6 linked regions of the Homo sapiens genome follow. The protein of the gene in region 5 purifies or fractionates together with the protein of the main gene of each other region. This does not show direct contact. Each region holds a gene or a part of one and is shown on either strand. Other genes may lie near its edges. The genes, in order: CREB3L2, SCN2B, TMEM184A, RIPK2, MAP3K4 and VSIG1.

The links.
Region 1: the proteins of MAP3K4 (region 5) and CREB3L2 purify together in Homo sapiens (co-immunoprecipitation; one large-scale study listed by IntAct). This does not show direct contact.
Region 2: the proteins of MAP3K4 (region 5) and SCN2B purify together in Homo sapiens (co-immunoprecipitation; one large-scale study listed by IntAct). This does not show direct contact.
Region 3: the proteins of MAP3K4 (region 5) and TMEM184A purify together in Homo sapiens (co-immunoprecipitation; one large-scale study listed by IntAct). This does not show direct contact.
Region 4: the proteins of MAP3K4 (region 5) and RIPK2 purify together in Homo sapiens (affinity purification with western blotting, with the first as the bait; one study listed by BioGRID). This does not show direct contact.
Region 6: the proteins of MAP3K4 (region 5) and VSIG1 purify together in Homo sapiens (co-immunoprecipitation; one large-scale study listed by IntAct). This does not show direct contact.

The regions. Positions count from the first base shown.
Region 1 is NC_000007.14:137,874,367-137,877,543, forward strand, and holds the end of CREB3L2 (cyclic AMP-responsive element-binding protein 3-like protein 2), read right to left. Parts: 3' UTR 613-3,177; downstream 1-612. UniProt on the Homo sapiens protein: Transcription factor involved in unfolded protein response (UPR).
Region 2 is NC_000011.10:118,161,959-118,164,498, reverse strand, and holds the end of SCN2B (sodium channel regulatory subunit beta-2 precursor), read left to right. Parts: 3' UTR 1-1,693; downstream 1,694-2,540. UniProt on the Homo sapiens protein: Regulatory subunit of multiple voltage-gated sodium (Nav) channels directly mediating the depolarization of excitable membranes.
Region 3 is NC_000007.14:1,541,589-1,544,197, forward strand, and holds the end of TMEM184A (transmembrane protein 184A), read right to left. Parts: 3' UTR 647-2,609; downstream 1-646. UniProt on the Homo sapiens protein: Acts as a heparin receptor in vascular cells. May be involved in vesicle transport in exocrine cells and Sertoli cells.
Region 4 is NC_000008.11:89,771,077-89,774,949, forward strand, and holds part of RIPK2 (receptor-interacting serine/threonine-protein kinase 2), read left to right. Parts: intron 1-664; coding exon 665-714; intron 715-1,590; coding exon 1,591-1,752; intron 1,753-3,873.
Region 5 is NC_000006.12:161,089,100-161,092,972, forward strand, and holds part of MAP3K4 (mitogen-activated protein kinase kinase kinase 4), read left to right. Parts: intron 1-222; coding exon 223-372; intron 373-2,279; coding exon 2,280-2,441; intron 2,442-2,910; coding exon 2,911-3,044; intron 3,045-3,873. UniProt on the Homo sapiens protein: Component of a protein kinase signal transduction cascade. Activates the CSBP2, P38 and JNK MAPK pathways, but not the ERK pathway. Specifically phosphorylates and activates MAP2K4 and MAP2K6.
Region 6 is NC_000023.11:108,061,739-108,065,611, forward strand, and holds part of VSIG1 (V-set and immunoglobulin domain-containing protein 1 isoform 2 precursor), read left to right. Parts: intron 1-2,971; coding exon of another isoform or gene 2,972-3,049; intron 3,050-3,873.

The sequences.
Region 1 (3,177 bases), on a different chromosome or scaffold from region 5:
TTCCAAGTAAGCACAGTCCCTGGCCTTAGTCTCTCACATCCCAAGTCAGTCTGAGACTAAACGAAGCCCCCACTCTCTGAGTGAAGAAAGCTACATTTGGATTCAGACATTGTAATGGAACGAAGATTACTCTGCTTGAGTGCACTGACCTTTATCAACCATTTCATCAGAATTTCTGGAGCATGAATCTGTTAGACATCCTCTGCAACTGTTCGTAGGAAGAAGGATCATTCCTTTCTGGCTCAAGTCCAAAGGATCTTTCTCAAGCAACCAGAGATGGGGAAAGCAAAATCAAATCCACAGACAGTTGAAATCTAGTTAGGGAATAGTTAGAGGAGACAATAAAAATAACAGTCATGCTGCATAAGTCTCTAGAGGATACTGTTTTTCTTCCCGTGGCTGCCTGAAAAAACAATTACATTCTCAATATTCCTCCAACTAAGGCTTGGATTCAGTCCTATATAACATACCAATTGCTGGTTTGAGGCTCTTCTTTCAGGCCAAGTAGATATCCAGGAAAGAACGGTTCGGCACACATACACAAACCCATGTTCATAAAAAAACAACATGCTTTTCAAATTAGTACCAAGATTATAAAGACTGGGCAACATCTTACTATTTAAGAAAAAATATTTATTTGCAAGAAATGGAAATACAAAAGCATAACAATTTCAATTTATTTTTTTTTCCCAAACTAAGTACAAGTGTCCTACAAAGCTTTTTTTTTTTTTTGGTATTTACTTAGCTATGATAAAGAATAAAAAGTCATTTAAAAAACGCGATAGGACAGATAACAGACTCACAACGTATTTAGATTTAAACACTGCTGGTCTACGTAACCTGTTACAAAAGAGAGCAAAACCTAACTGTCAGCATAGACATTAAAGCTCACCGTTGATTATAGCTCAGGGCCTGCTCAGCATTGTTTAAAAAGGGTCACTCACAGTTTTGTCAAAGAGTGCTGGTGTTCTCTATGAACTCATAAACTGTTTTATCTGAAAAGGTGATTTTCTAAGTAGTGTAAGCCATGGGTACATGGTGCAAAAAGTTCATGTTCTCACTCAGCTGGTGAGCGAAGGATGGGAGCAGAGAACAGAGCTAAAACCCCTGGTTTTCCTTTCCCCAGATGTAAAGCCTGCTAGCTGGAACTCACAGAAGATTGGAACAAAAAGATAGGAGATGGACACCTGGGGGACTGCTCCAGCACGAAGGGAAGCGATGAGCATCACACAGCAGGGCCATTGCAGGGGACAGGTGCTGTAATTCCTGCCCAGAGAACTTGAAAGCTTACAGTGTGCTCACAGGAAGGAATCGGCTCAGCTAGTCCAGAAATTGCTGCATTTCCCATATTACTTAGTTCTTTATTCATCCTGTGGTAAAGAGTCACCCTTGTTTTCCGTATCTATAAAACTGAAAGACTTAAAATTTACTTAGCACAGCACGCAACACCCTAGTAAATGCTCAAGAAATATTATTTCCCTTCCTTCTAGAAACCAAGGCTAAATAAAACATTCCTGAATTTTATGTTGTCCAAAATAACAAAACAAAACAACACCTAGTTTTTTCCTGTGTTAAGTGCTGACCCTTTGACCACAAAGGCATGGAACATTAATCTTCAAATGAGCCAGGTTCCTTTGCCCTGAGAAATGTTCCGCTATGAGGATTTATAATACCTTTAATCCTGGCTGGTTGTTTTTTTGATGTGATTGCACTCCTGCAAACTGGGATTTTCCTAATGGACGTAACCCTATTTCTTTTCTCCTGATGTGCAAATCTGATAGTGGCTCACTTTTAGGAAACCACTTTTGAGCCTTCAGAAAAAAATTTTTCCCCACACCCAACTCAATCTAATAATAAAAGAATATATACAAAATCTCCCAGTGACGAGGGATTCCTCAGTCATCCTGGATTTACCTATAAGGCACATTTAAGGCACAAATGAGCATGTAAGGGAGGAATGTGCACGTGTGTGTGTGTGTGTGTGTGTGTGTGTGTGTGTGTGTCAGAGAGAGAAGAAGGGAGAGAGAAGTATAAGCATTTGGGTCTTTTGAATAACTATTATTAATGTTTCCTCAATCCCTTCTATTCCCCAATATTCCCTAGGGCCTCAGGCAACACTCTTCCTTATGAAACTGAAAAGTCTTAGGAGTAACTGAATGAGTGAGTGAATGAACGAAACATCTAAGTCTTGTCTCTGGATCCTTCACAGCCCTCACGTCACCACCACCTACTCTCTCCTGTAACTGCCCTCCCAGCGGGGCCTATCCTAGCATGTGTCTATGGATAGTCTCACCTGAAGGTGGCCAAATAAAATGACTCTCAAGAGGGCACTACCTGCCCATGGCTTCACAGGTCCAGCCAGCCCAGCAAGCAGAAGTGCTGGTGTCTTTAACCCAGGTTTCTTAAAGACTGGCTTCAATAGAACCAACTGTAGTGACTTGGGGCAGAGGAAGGGGAGGATGAAGGTCTTCTAGTGCATCTCTGCCCTCTCCGTGTTGGCAAGGTTGGCATGAATGGGCCATTATTCAACTGGGGGTGGGATGTCTCCATTTCTGGACTGTGCTCAAATTCACACCTTGTATGACATGTGGGCAGAGGAGCTGGCCTGGAGAGGCCTCTAATTCTGCCTCTACGCTTTTGCTGGGTCTGAGGACATGGGAGGGAGGAGCCATAAAATGCTGGAGAACAATTTTAAAAAACACTTATGAAAAAATGCTGGACACTTGACTCACTGCCAGAACAAAGAAGAGCCAATTCAACATCCCAACTTTACGGGCACGTAAGATTCACAAGCTGAACCAAGAGATTTAGGAAGAAAAAAAAAAACATGGTAATTATAAGGGGTCTGTGAATAAGTTAAACTAAAAGCTGCTTTCACAATCTACAAATTAGGCCTCCAAATCAAAATCATTTATATTAACCAAAAGGTTATCTAATTTTGCCCATATTGGTGTCAAATCTCATCCCCACTCCCTGCCAAAAAAGAGCAACCTAGTTCAGCTGTCGGATTTTTATATAACACTCTCTTTATGTGAGCTAGACTCCAGAGTCCTCACACTTCACAGAAATTCTTTCTTAAAACTGGCACTGCAGCCTTTCATTTACAATATCCCTTTTTAAGTGCAAAGTCGAGGGCTGTGAAAAGAACCACGGTGGGGGGTCTGGGTTACTCAGGTC
Region 2 (2,540 bases), on a different chromosome or scaffold from region 5:
AGCGAGTCAAGCCCATCTGGAAATGCTAAACTCATCAGCTCAGTACCTAACTGCCAATCAACACACTGCCAATGCGGGTGGGCTAAGCCGCCAGGATGCCTGCAGCAGATGGACGCTGCCCATCCTTGAGCCAGCCAGCTGGGGGCAGAGAGGTGGGTGGCGGGCACCTCATGCCAGCTGAGACCAAGAGTGGTTGTATACATTTCTGCAGCTTGCAGATTTCATTTTTTTGGTCACCCTTTAAGTGTCCTTCTCTCCCAGGATGAGTGAGGAGCTGTGCTGATGTTGGGAACTTATCTTTTTCCAGGATCCATAACATTTAGGGGAATTATTTGCGGGCTTTCCTAGTGTATTCTAAGAAGTTCTAACTCTCCATCAAGAAGCCCAAGATTCCTGGAGTCTTTTTTTCCTCTGCCCTGATCAACTGGGGCCCAGGAAAAGCAATGTCTCTTCACGGGCCTCAGGGCCCCAGCAGATGGGGCTGGGTCAGGAACCATCTCTGTCCCAGGTGCTCAGCCCTCATATGCATTTTCTTCTGGAGCCTCTTAGAATCTCCTCCAGAGGACTCATAGAGCTGCCTCCCCCAGGATGGTGAAGTTGGGAGCAAAATGGGGCTTCTGTAAGTAGAGGTGGAAAACCAGAGAGATGTTTCCACAGCAGCCATTTCCCTACCCTGTTTCCTAACTTATGCTGACAAGTTCTTCCTCTTCCTACCGTGGGGTTCGAGCCCCACTTCTGGTTGCATGTTCCCACCACCACGCTCTGCTGGTTTTAGTCGGCTGACTTTCTCAACTGCCCCAGCCTCTCCTGCTCTCTCAGAACCTCCCTCTGCCCCCACCCCCCATCTGTCTCTTCCTCCTAATTAAGGGCCACTGCAAAGAGAGACGGGCTGGCTAACCCATGGGATTTAGCTTATAAGAACAAAGCACAATTATTCAGGACTGAACTGCTTTGAGGTGCCTTGGAACTGGCTTTGGAAATAGCTATCTGCCCCCTAGCTATGGACTCTTCACAGTTATTTCCAGTTTATAAAAAGGAAAAGCTGATCGGATCCATGTTTCTCTCTGCGAGTCTCCTTGGGGAGGTTGGGCTGGTAAATATTTGCAAGGTCAGGTTAAGCAGACAGACAATTGAAAATACTGGGCAGGTCCAAAAGGATAGTTCCAGGCCATAGGAATGGCTTGGTGCAGTTAACGGGTGATGAAGCAAGAAATCTTCCTTCCTACTTATGTCTTAAAGATGGACAGCCTGTGTCTCTTGCTGTGCCTCTTGCTGGCGTCTTCCTTTATTGAAGCTTGCTGATGCACTGTACATAGTCTCTCTCTCTAGGTATAGATATATTATATATACAAATATCAAACATCTCACCACACCCACCCCAAAAGTTACACTGTGTGTGTGTGGGGAGGTGTAATAACTTCTCAGTGTTTTGAGTTGATTCACCAAAGGCAAATTTTGGAATGTTCTTGCGCTTTGTGCACTTGGAGGGGAAAACCCAACTACATATGCACTTTCTTGGTTGTGTGTGCTATAGAGAGGTTGGAAGGGGTGGTTGGAAGGGGAGAGAAACTGAGATGGCCCTCTGTGACTCGACTGCTGGGATGTATCTGCTTTTGGGAGCAGACTGAGTTTCTTTTGCAATTTGTCTTATTGTTTGGGTCTACTGGCAACAATAAACTATCTCCCCTGAAAATCCCTCGAGTGTGGCTTTATTCAGGGGTTCAGGGCAGGGTAGGCTGATGCTTCACCAGGATCTTAACTGGAACCCTAGGTGCTCCTTTCCTGGTAATCCCATTGGCGCTGCCAGATCTCCAGCATCTGAGGGCCTCAATGCCCCTGCCTCACAAGGGGAAGGTTGTCTACCCCACACTTGTGCCCCCACAGATGTTTCATCCCTTTGCCTTCCCCAACCCCCTGGGGACTCCGCTCACCCTGGAACAGAGTGGCTGAACACCTACTTCTTGGAGGGCTCTCGATTATTTTGGGGATGAAGACAACCCCGGAAGCTCCCAAGGCTGACTGTCATGCGGATGTTGCCTGTCCTTTGCATGGGCAGACAGGCCATCCTTCCTGCTCTGTTCCCCAAAGGTGTTGGATTAGACATTTCTTTTGCCTCCTCTGGACTCAGAAAGAATAGATGACAGCTGGTCAGAGTCTGCCCTCATGCAGTTCATGGAGAAGGGTGGCTGTGGGAAGGTTCAGGTGGCTCATGTCCCATCTACATACTGCTGGATCCTATATATATGTGCCAAAGCAGCCCTAAGAAGTTTAGGACCAAGGGCAACCTCCTGGCTAGGGGCTCCACTGTCCCAGACAGGCCTTTTTTTCTCCCTTGCTCTTCATTCTTCCGTCTCTTTGCATTTCTCCCTCTCTCCCTTGCACCGCTCTCTCTCTCTCTCTCTCTCTCTCTCTGTCTGTCTGTCTCTCTCTCTCTTGCCTAGGAGGCTTACCAGGCTTACCTTCCTCTTCCTACTCTGGGGTTCGAGCCCCACTTCTGGCTGCATGCTCCGGCCACCACGCTCTGGTGGTTTCAGTCTGCT
Region 3 (2,609 bases), on a different chromosome or scaffold from region 5:
GGGGAGGCAGCAGGCACCAGTCCAGGAGAGCTTCGTGGACGTGGCTCCTGCGCGCACACCCCCAGGAGCACAGCCACGGGCTGCAGGTGTGGCTGGCCTCAGCACTCAGTCCTCACCCGGAGCCTTTGCCTGCTCCTCCTTCCAAGAGCACTGAGGCACCAGTGGGCTTGGCACTCCACCTTGGGCTTCCTTTTCCTGGAGAGCCGCCTTGAGGGTCCCTCCTGTGACTGGGGTCTCTGCAGCGAGAGCCGCGGGGGTTGCGGAGCCCCTGCCTGGGGGAGCTGGCGGAATGTGAGCCGCCGGCCGGGGGCCGCCACATAAGACCTGCAAGGTGGTGCCTGGGGCCCTGGCTCCTTCTCGGCTGCCCCTGCCCACCCAGTAACAGCCCCCACCAGCTACAGAGCCCAGGCGGGTGCCAGCCACGCTGGGAGGGCAGAGGACAGACAGCCCCGGGGCTGCGACTTGGTTCTGTGTCTACTGTTAGAAGTTGAGTGGGAAGCTGCAGGCCCGCCAGGACCACTGGGTCCCTACAGAGCAAAGGCCTGCGTGTTCCCAAACAGCCGTTGCCCCCGTGGCCGTGGTAGGTAATCCATATTGGATGTCATAAGGACCAGGGGGATATTTAAAGAGAGAAACAGAAAATATATAGAGATATAAAATTATATTCACAGTTTATCTACAGATTTTTCGTAACAATCTTTCTTTTCCAGTTTGATACTGTAAATCTATCAGAGCAGAGCCGGGGGCACGGGCACAGGTGGGAGTTGGGAGCAAAGCGGAGGCCCGGGCTGCCCGCCGTCCCCCTTCATCTCCCCACGGACTGTACCAGGCAGCTGGGCCCCGCAGGACAGGCCGCAGCGGGTGGCCGGTTCTGTCCCGTCTTGGGGTTCTTGGTGTCCACGTCTTGTGGGCCGTGGGCTTCTACCTGCCCTTGGCCTGCAGTGCTTTGCTGGAGAAGGGACTCCCTGGTCCCCAGGGTGGACGGAGCCGCTGTCACCGCCCAGAGCTGGGCCGGGGAAGCACGGTGTGTTCTGCTTTTCTTTTCAGATTGTTGAAATTTCATTGTCATGATTTAATATATGGATTTTTTTATTTAAGAAAAAGACGAGGGACTCTTTGTCACGTGGGTTTGTTTTCTGTCTCCGTGCCTCCGGCTTCCCAAAGAGATCCAGGTCTTTGCGTTTCCAGGGCGTGGGGACCCCGGCCCCCTATGCCGCCACGCCGCCACACCGCCTCACCCTGGCTTCTGTGCTACTTGGCAGTTCCATTTCATTATTTATTTTTTGTGCTGCTTTTTATCATGATATAAATTATTGAAAACAGATCACATGTGGGCCCGTGTCTGGCCGCCGCCGCCCTGCCCCGTCCCTGCGGCCACCACCTAATTTATTGCCGTGCGTCCTGCTGCTGTGACTGCTTTTGTACCTTTGCAATAAAGAATTTTCTGGTTTCAGACCCTTTCGTTGCGTAGCTGGTGCTTTCAGCTGGGGCTTTCTTGGGCCAAGAACCACACCCCCCCCCCAATCCCAGGGGACCCTGCCTGTCCCTCACCGGGGTCAGGATCCGGGCACTACGTGTAAGTGGCTTTCCCGGACTGCTGGGCCGTGACCGTGAGGCTGGGACAGCCACGGGGGAGGTGCTGGTCAGGTGACCACGTCCTGGGCTCAGTCTCTGAGGGTCAGGCCGCAGTCCTGAGTGTCCCCATCTGCCCCACCCGGAGCCCCCTGTCCATGCAGCCTCTCCCTTCCAGTGGAAGGAGCAGAGAGCAGCACGGCTGTCAGTGTTCCCCTTCCCTGGGAGACATCTCGCCCAGCTTTGCTGGACTCTCAGAGGAGCCTGCAGGAAGCTGTGAGCAAGACAGGGTCTGTCTGGGAGCAGAGAGCAAAGCGCCCCTGCACAGTGGCCGGAAGCCCGTGGACTCCTCCGAAAAGCCACGGGCCTGCCCGCATGCCGTCCCCACCCCGCCCGGCCTTCCCCGTTTTTGGGGCTGAGCTGACCGAGGTGTGAACGCTGTTCAGTGCTGGACCACGCAGGGTGAAATCCCAACTCGAGTTTTTTGAGACAGTATCTTGCTTTGTCACCCAAGCTGGAGTGCAGGGGCGTGATCACAGTTCACTGCAGCCTCGACCTCCCAGGCTCAAGCAATCCTCCCATCTCAGCCTCCTGAGTAGCTGGGACCGCCGGCACGCACCACCACGCCCAGCTAATTTTTGTATTTTTTTTTTGTAGAGATGGGGTTTCACCATGTTGCCCAGGCTGGTCTCAGACTCCTGGGCTCAAGCAATCCACTCGCCTTGGCCTCCCCAAGTGCTGGAATTACAGGTGTGAGCCACTGCACCCGATCATAATCCCAACTCGCAGCATCTGTGTGGCCTGGGGCCAGTTCCCTCCTTCCCAGCCTTGCTTCCTGTGAGTTGGGTGTGGAGGTGAGTGTGCAACAGCTGGCACATAGCGCAGTGAGTGTTGAATCTGTGCTGGGGCCACAGCAGCCCGAGCTTGTCACTAGCAATGGCAGGGATGGCACTTTCCCCAGCTAAGTCAGACCTCCCTGCAGCCCACCCTGCGGCTCTGGGCCCAGCCTGCTCCTCCTGGGGGAGCCGACGGGTGTG
Region 4 (3,873 bases), on a different chromosome or scaffold from region 5:
GTTCAATTTCAATATTCTCTGTCAGGGAAAAATGAGGAAATATTATTCCTTCATTTGGGTAGGAATTCCCTCTGTACTCCTCGCTCTCCCTGTAACACAAGGTGTTAGTAGTAATAAATTCTATGTGTCCATTTTGAATGCATGGTTAATGTTGGGGTGTGGCAAAATTCTTATATCCTATTTAACCATTTATTCTAATTATAAACTCTATGCAGCTTAACCCTGTAATTGACATCTGAAGTTAAACTGTAGGCAAGATATTTCTACTACCAAAGAAGATAGTGCTGAGAGCAGAAAAAAGGCAGTAGAATAGAGCTCCATGAGACAATTTTTTTCTTGTTCTTTGTTCTTTGTGAAAAATAATATCATTTAATTAAAGGGCATAGCTTATCTGGGTGTCCAAGAATTAAATCATCCACAAAAAGTTAATCTTGCATGTAACGTTAAGCTTGTATTACAGTAATTTCCTAATTTTTTAACTTAAAGTTGATTTTGTTTCCAAACTACATGAGCATTTATCATCTTCATTGTATACAGTAATTCTTTGCTGCCTTATCACTTTGAAAAATGGTATCTTCAGTCAGCTTTTAAAAATAGTGCTATTTTAGTTTATTATGCAGAGTTCATTTAAAATATGTAACATGTATGTTCTTATGTTAAACAGCTATGCAGTTATCACATGGGAAGTGTTATCCAGAAAACAGCCTTTTGAAGGTAAGTATGGTTTGACTTTTTTATGCTCAATAACATCATGTTAGTAGGTCACTCTCAGAACTATCTAAAAATCATGTTATTTTAAATCTGCTTATTCATTTTGTGGAAAACACACTAAAACAACCATTTATCAGTTGTGAATGCATCACATACTGCAAAATATACCGGGTTAAGGATCCAGTTGTGAGTCTACTATATACTGGAAAATGTACTGGATTAAGGATCAGAAAAACCCAGATTTTAATTCTTGTTCTGACAGTAATTAGCTCTGTGATCAAGTCACAAATCTCTTGCGTCCTCATTTTTGTCGCCTGCATAATAAGAATTTTAAATTACTATTTCCAAGTTCTAGTCTAGCTGTAAAATTATTTATATGATAATTTAATTACTACCCCCTCTATAAAGACTAGCAAATATCGAAGACTAATCTGTCCTTTTTATTCCCTGAAAATATTGTTTATTTCTTTATTTTGAGGTTTGTGTAGGTCAGCTTGTTGTGTAACAAAAAACAACCTCGGAATCTCCGTAGCTTATGAAATAAACATTTATTTCTCATTCACATTAAATATTGGTTGCTGTAGCCCTTCTTAGTTCTGCAAGGTTTCGCTCAGCTCTGCTTTACAAATACTCTGTTGACCAAATCCAATCACATGGTCAAGCCCAAAATTAATGAGGTGAGGATATAAACTCATTCCATAGGAATCAGACAAGTCTGGCAATGGTTTGGGGTATATATATTCCTTTTACAGAAAGGGGGGTAAGGCATCATTCCTAAAATTTCAATATTCACTTATTTTCTTTTAGTTAGTTTTAGATGTAAGTAATATGCTTAATCATAATATATTACTAATGAATGCAATCTATTTGTTTTGACAGATGTCACCAATCCTTTGCAGATAATGTATAGTGTGTCACAAGGACATCGACCTGTTATTAATGAAGAAAGTTTGCCATATGATATACCTCACCGAGCACGTATGATCTCTCTAATAGAAAGTGGATGGGCACAAAATCCAGATGAAAGACCATCTTTCTTAAGTGAGTATATAGTTTTAACCTAGACTCTTTGAATTACAGAATTAGTTAATATACTGTGAATAAAATATTCCTTGAAAAATTGTGCAAATTAGATGACTAGCTAGAAGTTGTTTAAATTATTTTCTGTCTTATCATAGCATTTATATATGAGTAACTCCTTCTAGAGCAGAATTGAGAATTCCTAACAAAAAAGAGAAATCGTGTGATAGGAGTAACAATTTCTTTCATATATTTAACAAATATGTCTTAAACCCCTACCATGTGCTATGTATATACTGGAGTGAGCCCTGGGAACAGAGTAGTAAACAAGACAAACTTTCTGTAGCTAGTTCACATTCTAGTTGAGAAGGCAGAGTGAAAACAAATAAATAAGCAAGATACACAAATTGTGACAGTCTTATAAGGAAATAAGCAAGGTAATAGACTAATTAAGGGAGGGAAACAAAGGCCTTTTTTTAGGGGCAAACATTTGAGCTGACATTTGAAGCTTGAAAAAGAGCCAGTCATTCAAATGCTGAAGAAAGAGTATTCAGCCAAACAAAACAGCAAGCATAAAGGCTCTGAGCCTAGAAGAGGAAAAAGTTTTATATTCTCAAGAAACAGTGAGAAGGCCTGTGTGGCTGGAATACAGTGAGCAAGGAAAGGAATTAGATGATATTGGAGAGTTAAGAGAGAGGCTATTGGCCATCATAAAAAGGTTAGATTTTTATTCCAAGTGCAATGGAAAGCCATTAAAGTATCTTTTGCAGGGAAGTGACATGATCTGATAGAAGTTTAGGTGAAATTCTTACTGCTGTGTGGAAAGTTGATTGGAGAAAGACAAAAGTGGAAGCAAAGAGGCTAGAAAAGACACTTTCAGGAATATTCTAATTAAGGTGGAAATTCTGAAGACAGAAGAGTTACAGAATTAAGATAGTATTTCAGAGGTAGAATGGATCAGACATCCAAATGTAAATGTAGGAGAAAATCTTCATGACCTAGGGTTAGGCAGAATCTTTAAATATGACATCAAAAATAAATAGGATTCATTAAAAAATTTATAATCAGACTTTGCAAACATTGGAAACTTTTCCACTTCGAAAGGTACTATTGAGAAAAGAGAAAGCCAGGCATTTAGTGTCCACGACTTTAGTCCCAGGTACTTAGGAGGCTGAGGCAGGAGGATCACTTGAGCCCAGGAGTTTGAGGATGTGTAATAGTGCACTGTGATCGTGCCTATGAATAGCTACTGCACTCCAACCTGGGCAACATAGCAAGACCTCATTTCCAAGAAGGAAAAAAAAAAGCAGAGCCACAGACTGGGAGAAAATATTTGCATAACATGTATCTGCTAAAGGGCTTGATTCTAGAATATATAAAAAACCCTGACAAGTCAATAATAGGACATATAGCCCTATTTTTAAATGAGTAAAAGATTTGAATTTCACCAAGGGAGATATACAAATAGCTAAAAAGCACATAAAATGATGCTTAATATTATTAGTCATTTGGAAATGCAAATTAAAACTGCAATGAGTTACCACTTCATACCCACAAAATAGCTATAATTAAAGACAGAAAATAACAAGTGTTGACAGTGATGTGGCAGAACCAAAATCCGTATACATTGTTGGTGGGAATATAAAATGATGCTGCCACTTTGGAAAACGGTTTGGCAGTTTCTTAAAAATGAAAGATAAATTTACCATACAACCAAGCAATCCACTAACAGGTAAACCAAGAGAAATGAAAACATATGTTCACACAGTTGTATGTGATTAGTGATAGCAGCATTGTTTATAATAGCCAGCAAGTAGAAACGGTCATAATTACTGCTGCTACTACTACAACAATACATGAATCTGTTGTTCCAGGAAGAGTCCAGGATCCTAATATAAAATTGAACATCACTAACATATTGATAGTCTGGACTGGTTCATCTAAGAAGGGAATATACATAGCAAAGAGAGGACCCATAGTAAAGCTCTGAGGCATTCCAGCACTTAGAAATTGAGAAGAGGAAGAAGAAAAAGGATTAAGGAAGAGAAGACAGTAGAGAGTGTAGTCCTTGTGTCTTGGAAGTCAAGGAGGGGTATAGTCGGACATGTTTAATCTGCCAGGAGGCCAAATGAGATAAGCAGG
Region 5 (3,873 bases):
GTCCCAAAGGGTTCTTCTCCGTGGTGCTGAATATCCCAGCTGTCAATGCCCACTGAAGCGTGTTGCTGTGTAGGAGAAGCTTTGCTTAAAAATGACTTTCTGATTAGATGGTTGTTGGCCTGGTATCCCTGAGATTGGCATTGTTTTTGGACTGGTGTTGAACTAGAATAACAACTAGTAACTGGGTTGGTTTTTATGTCCTGTGCTTGATTTTCCTCCCAGGTGGATAATCTTTTACTAGTTGTCATGCAGTCTGCGCATCTCACAATTCAGAGAAAAGCTTTCCAGCAGTCCATTGAGGGACTTATGACTCTGTGCCAGGAGCAGACATCCAGTCAGCCGGTCATCGCCAAAGCTTTGCAGCAGCTGAAGGTATTACACTGTCCTCTACATTAGCTGAGATTTTTCCTTTTTGATGAAAGTCAGTGTGTGGTAATGTGTGTAAGGTAATATCATCCAAGGAACTTGAGCTCCTGAATTGCCTGCCCACTCACCTCTCTTCCCAATACATATTTTCTTATGTCTAAACTACATATTCTGAGATTCTTCCTGAAGCTGTAGAACTTTATAATTGGAAAGGATAGAGAATTGAACTTTATGTGACTTATTCATAATGGCTACATGACTGGTTAGTGGCAAAGTTGAAAATTTAATAATTTAGGTCTCTTCATTCCCAGTGTAAATTTCATTCTCCTTTCACAATCCCCAGTATTTACTAGAGGTACTCCATATCAGCAGTGTGTAATAGAAGATTTATTTATTGTTTTGTTTAATAAATAATTCAACCAAATTAAATATAATAGAAAAAAGTTGCAGAGAAGTACAAAGGCCTTTCAAAGTTTATGACAAGCCCCAGCCTGGCTGTCTTTTTCCATTATTTCCTGTTTTTGACACTTTCTATTTTGTATCCCATGTATCAGTCTTGATCTCATCCACACTTTTCCAGGCCATCAGTTATGTCTTCTCACTCACATTAAGGCTTAACTTCTTGAAGAAGAAACATTCTCTGAAGTTACAAGTCATTTCGTAAACACTTGTTTTTCTTCTGTTGGTCTGATTTGTCTGATTTATCTATAAACATTTATTAACTAAATATTTAGGTTATCTCTCTCTATGGATTGCTGGAAGAATATTTTGTAACCATAGTAAGGGGATTGCCTGATGGAGACCTTGTGTGCACTCGTGTGTAAGGGTGGGTAGAGAGAGAGACCGATTTGGAGCTATTGTGATGTTGCTGACAGAGGTGACAAAAGCTCGAGCCAGGGCAGGGCTTCTCAGCCTCTTGGATGTGGACGTTTGGGCCCGTAACTCTTGGTCGTGGAGGGCCGTCCTGCGCATTGTAGGATGTTTAGAGCTAGGGCAGGGCTTCTCAGCCTCTTGGATGTGGACGTTTGGGCCCGTAACTCTTGGTCGTGGAGGGCTGTCCTGCGCATTGTAGGATGTTTAGAGCCAGGGCAGGGCTTCTCAGCCTCTTGGATGTGGACGTTTGGGCCCGTAACTCTTGGTCATGGAGGGCCGTCCTGCGCATTGTAGGATGTTTAGAGCCAGGGCAGGGCTTCTCAGCCTCTTGGATGTGGACGTTTGGGCCCGTAATTCTTGGTCGTGGAGGGCCGCCCTGCGCATTGTAGGATGTTTAGAGCCAGGGCAGGGCTTCTCAGCCTCTTGGATGTGGACGTTTGGGCCCGTAACTCTTGGTCGTGGAGGGCCGTCCTGCGCATTGTAGGATGTTTAGCAGCATCCCTGGCCTCTACTCACCATATCCCAGTACTTCCACTTTTTCCTCCAAATTTTGACCATCAAAAACTTCTCTGGACAACGTCTCCAGACGCTGAGGGGAGGGGGAGAAATCTGCCCCAGAAGAGAACCCCTGGACTAGGGAGTAGCAGGGAAATGAGGACAGCACGATCGGAGGAGGTCATCTAGAAGTACATGGACTTTTTCACTCTGTGGAATTGCACCCGTACTTATGGTTGAGCAACCGTCCAGGAGGAGAAAACAACAGGTGGTTGATGTATAAAAATATTGAAGATAAAAGCATCTATTCCAAGAGCAGATTATAACTAGACTGTATCATTTTAAATGCATTTTTTTCTCTTCTATTTAAGAATGCCAAATAAAATGACATAATTTCTTCTATATTTGGTAATTCCTTTACCAAGTGGCTGAATTGTTTGTAGTGGTTAATGTCTGTGTGATGATGAACGAAATCTTCCTTTAAAATGTGGTAAGTATTGTATGATTTGCTTCATTTTGCATTAATCATGGTTTGGACTCTTCAGAATGATGCATTGGAGCTATGCAACAGGATAAGCAATGCCATTGACCGCGTGGACCACATGTTCACATCAGAATTTGATGCTGAGGTTGATGAATCTGAATCTGTCACCTTGCAACAGTACTACCGAGAAGCAATGATTCAGGGGTACAATTTTGGATTTGAGGTAGGTTCAAAATAAGAGGAAACACGGTACAATTTAGTAATTGCTTGATAACTTACAGAAAGTTTTTGGAACCTTTTACAGTAAATCTGATATTGTAATCATAGCTTAATCAAGAATATCATCTTATATCACTGCTGTATATCAGAGATGTTAGTTTACTTTTAAACTGTTAGGTAATTGTCCAACTTTTATTTTGTGCTAACAGCCATCTACTTACATTTTAAAACTTTAAAGAGATGTTTTATGTCATAAAAGCACATTCTTAATTTAAACTCAGGAGTAAAACATTTATGAAACTGCATTTTGAAACACTGTACTTTCCATAATTCTTCATACTATTCAAAATATAGAAATTTTAATTGGATTTCACTTTTTGTTTTTAGAAAACATTTTAGACATGGCATTATAGTGTGTGATATTATTTAATGATCATTTCCTTAATGTTGATATACATGAAATCTTCTTACAGTATCATAAAGAAGTTGTTCGTTTGATGTCTGGGGAGTTTAGACAGAAGATAGGAGACAAATATATAAGCTTTGCCCGGAAGTGGATGAATTATGTCCTGACTAAATGTGAGAGTGGTAGAGGTACAAGACCCAGGTAATGACCAAGTAGGATGTTTCTGAAATGTGTCATGTGGGCTTGGTGGTATTTGTTCATATATGTTCTGTGGGATTCTTTTTGAGCAGACGACACAGAAGGGAACACTCTAAACTCTTCGGTGATCAGGTTTTTTTTAATGGAAAAATATGTAGAGAAAACTGCGTAACTCTTGGGAAAAAATTTTTTTTTAAATTTGTTCCAAATTTGAGTTACCTTTAAGGGAACTCATGTTCTCCTTTGACAAGTCTTCCTGATGACTAATGTATTTTCCTCCCTCATGAAATTTATTCATTAAGAAACCATTTTGGAATTTGCAGGGGTGAAATGGGTGAATCGTCTGTGAGGCTCAATACTAGCTCCACTAAAGTAAACATAGTTATTAAAGTGTCATGACTGTGTGAGAAATAGCTGAGTGTTCTGTAATTTGTAATGGAGGGATAGCATGGGGCACTTTCTTAAAGTCATTAAGCAATTTCTCCAAGTTAGAGAAAACACATTTGCTGCATCTGAGATTCAAAGTAGGAACTTTGTGTTACAAAACTCATAAATACTTGTTGAATTACAAATAAATAATTGTTGAATTACAGATGGCACCTATCATGTCTAAAATCCTCTTCCATGCTTCCCATTGGTTTCAAAACAAAATTAAATTTTAAAAAATTATTCTCCTTTCCAAAAGGTCACGCTGTAAACTTACTGAACCCAAGCAAAAAAAAGTGTCTTGTCCTAAATAGTAATTATAATTATGTTACTTTTCAGTATTGTACAGTCTAAAACTGCTACAGCGTTTTCTTGGTTGTTATGTGATTACTGAACTTTTTCGTGT
Region 6 (3,873 bases), on a different chromosome or scaffold from region 5:
AGGACCCTATTGCTGCCCTGATCAGGGCAGTGGCCAGCTCTTTCCATAGTCCCATCTTCCCTTTCCTGAAATCATTGTGTTAGATTAGCAATTGACTCTGAGGCCTGGTATTCCTCAATACCTAGGGGCTGATGTTATCTCTTACTGACTATCCCCTTTGGAGAACAGAGACTGAAGTATCCCACAGGTCTTCCCACCAAGAAGGCCAGGATATTCATTAGCATGGTCCTTCTCTCAGAGAAACATTCCTCTCAGAAAATATGAACAGCTTTAGATAGTCAATCCCTCAGCAGGGAATCTCAGCTGAAAACTCTAGGCCAGGTATGGGCAGGCTAACATGGAAATTTGGGGTGGTCTGGTGCCTTTCTGGTCACACAGATGGCTTCATCTTCCATCCAGTCTGTTAATGCTAACACTACAGAGACCCCACCTGTCCCTGAACAGACCATGCCTTGACTCTGCTTAGCATGAATCTCTCAGACAATACTTATTCTTCAAGAATGTTCATAGTGAAAAAATACCCTTTGCCAGTCTCATAAACAACTTAGACAACTTCTTTCCCAGGACCTAGTGTTCTTATGTTCTCTGGCTTCTCAGGTTTTACAACCTGAAATACACAGGACAGAGCCACACAATAAAGAGTTGTCTGCCCAAAATGCCAGTGTCACCCCTACTGAGAAATACTGCAAGTTCTTCCCCACCCCACCATCAAATTTATGTATTGTGTCCCATTCACTTTCTGCTAAATCTGATAAATTAATCTCATGGTAAGGTGTTAGGGACTAGCGAAAGCTTATTTTATTCTCTTCTAAAGAATGCATTGAATGGGACCTTCCATGCCTTCTTCCAAAAGGAGCAACTCAAATGGCAGATACCCAGGCAAATGGAGGGTTGGTAAGAGAGTTGGTTTGGAAGCAAGAGAGTCTTTCTTTTGGTATCCCATTCCTTCCACATGCCATCCCTGCACCACAATACAGTCCAAATAAAATTCTGAGCTTGTGACCATTGCCACCTTATACCTGCACACCCCTTCCCTATCCTATGGCTAGCCCCTCTATCAGCAGTACAAGAAAGCAAGAAGCTGGAAAGGAAAGAATGGGTGGTTTGCTGTGGATGTCCATGTCCTCCACCTTCCCAGAAGGAATCTGCAAAAGCAGCTCTGGAAGCTAACTCCAACTCAGATTCAAACAGAAAGCAGACTGAATTCTTTCAACCCTTCTTGTTTATACTCCATGCTTCTAGTTAGAGAGCAGTGTCACTAAGCTGAGGAAAAAGTCTTTTAGGACAAATCTGGTTCCCAGCTGCACGGCCTTGTGTGAATAGGAACTTGGCACAGTAGGAAGGGAAAGGTTGCTCTGCAAAGAACTGAGGGGCCTACAATTGCAGCTGGCAAATATTGAGGGCATCATGTGGTGAACATACTCAGCATGGGAAGCATCATGCCAATAAATAGCAACAATTGGCAGGAGAAAGGTTGGGCTGGAGCAGGGAATGGAATGGTCCCAAAAGGAGAAGGTTGCCCAGGAATCATCTTTCTCATCTTAAGAAGCACTGTGAGTGCCATCTTAATATATTCAGTGGGAATCAGAAGGTCTGAATTCCAGGTCTGACTGTAAATTGTGTGACCTTGGGAAAATGGCTCCCTCTATTGAGGCCTCGGTGTCCTTTTTTTGTATTAGAAAAGGATGAATTCGAGTTTACTAACCGCAGGCCTCTGGGTCAGATTTGGCCAGTGGATGTATTTCAGTCGGCCTGCCCAGTATTTTGTTTGTTTGTTTCAACAGTTCGAATGCCTTGTTTGCGTTGACTTTTCCGTTCCCTGCAGTCCCCATATCTGTTATGAGCTTACCACTACTTACCAGCCCCTCCCAGCCATTTCCCATATTTCCAATATCCATCGGGCTCCTGAAGGCCCCTTAACCTTAGAAACCACAAACCAAACTATCTCACAGAGGTCTTATAATTAATGTGCAATTATGACTCCACCCATCAGCCTCTAGCGTCACCCTGGGGGCAGGCAGAGAGGACCTTGGGAGAAAGCAGGGCAGTCTACCATGAACCCAAGCACAAAGTGCAGGTGGGTAAAAAATTAACAAGCGCCCCTTAAGGGAACACTGGGATGGATTTCCTTAAAAAAATCACCTCCTCCCCACCTCCACCCAAAGATGTGGCCCATTGTACATCCGGGGCTTTTTCTGGATCTCCATTGCTTTGACGTCTAAATTGATAATATTCTTTCTTTGAAAAGTGTACAAGCCACACAGGATCATGGGCCAGGCTTTGGCCACTGTTCAGCTTTGATTTTTAAAAGAGTTATTCTTTTATGGAAAGTGGAATCAAGTTGTAGCCCTTCCTATATGATTAGATAAGCAGTTTCAGGAAAACACTTCTTTCTTTTTTTCTTTACAAGGACAGTGTGACTGTGTGGACTTCCCCTTAACAGAAAGCCCCTCCATGTATGTGTCTGGCTGCTGCTGTCTACCCCTAGGTACTTTACTTCTTACAGAGAACTGTGAAGCCAAAGCCTTGGCTCTTTTAGGTCTCCATTGTTAGCCCTCACTACCCCCATTTCTGTCTCTAATACCTTTTAGTGTCAATCGTGAGAGGGCAAAATGTATTAGACTACAGCATGAGGAGCTAGCATGTAAGAGGTAGTAAAGGTCTTTTTCATGGGTAAGGTTCCAGGGCCTCATTGCTTATATACTCATTTCACCTTGACTCATGCCCAACTATGGGACTTTTACAGTGGGCATGGACACATGGATACAGTGGACACTTTTACTTCTTCTCATATCCTAATTCTGGCCTAAAACACACCATTTTGGCCTCAAGATCTCTGCAGAAATAAGGTCCTTTTCACCTGGATCCTCTGGGACTTGCTGTGGGCCTCAGGCGTGACTGATGTTGTATCTCATTGTGATGTCATCAAGCATCAGTATAAAACAGGGCTGATGTTTTACACTGTCCACAGTCTCCTTGGGAGGAGGGGAAGTGGCCAGATGTTGAGGCTGTGAAGGGCACTCTTGATGGACAGCAGGCTGAACTCCAGGTAAGAAACAACAAGACCTCAAACTGTCAATTAGAAAGTAAATAAGCCCCATGCTGCCTAGTGAAATTGAAAGCCTGATAGCGTGGGTGCCAACTCAAATGAAAGTAATCCTCTGATGTATTGAACCTCCTTCTGTCCCACTTGAATACCTGGAGTTAATCCTGGCTTTCTGGTTTGGAAGTCAAACAAGACCATTCTGGGGCAAGAGTTTGTGATTTCAGTAGGTGTGAATGAATGAATTATAAATGGCTGCATTTATAATGCAAGCAAGAAAACACGTTGATGTTAGAAAAAACGGGAGAGAAACAAATAGTTTTCTCTGTAAATGTACTCTTTTCCTGGGATTTTTCCCTCAAAATCCAGCTTTCTGCCTTAGTTTTAAAATATATTGACTTTCTGCTTAAAGGAGAATACATTTGAATTCATCTAGACAATATCTTTTGGTTTTCTAATTGCTTTCCCTCTTTTATTGGCCTGTTAAGGTAAAGCCCACAGTACAAGGAATTAGGAAAATTGGATTCCAGATCTGTCTCAACCGTCAATTTTGCCTTTTATTTTTTAACCTCTCTGGGCTTTGGTTTCTTCTGTAAACTGAGGGAAGTGAATTAAATGAACTGTAAGGCCTTCCAGTAGATTTTATGAAAAATTAGTCTCACCAGACTAAGACAATACAGTTTATTGAACAATAACAATCACTTGAATAATATACATTTACATGAAACCAACAAAACATGTACATAGAAGGTGTGTATTATGAAGGGACCTCAGGAATTACCTAATCCAGTGATTTCCCAGCTTCAGTCATTCATGTACCATCTACATGA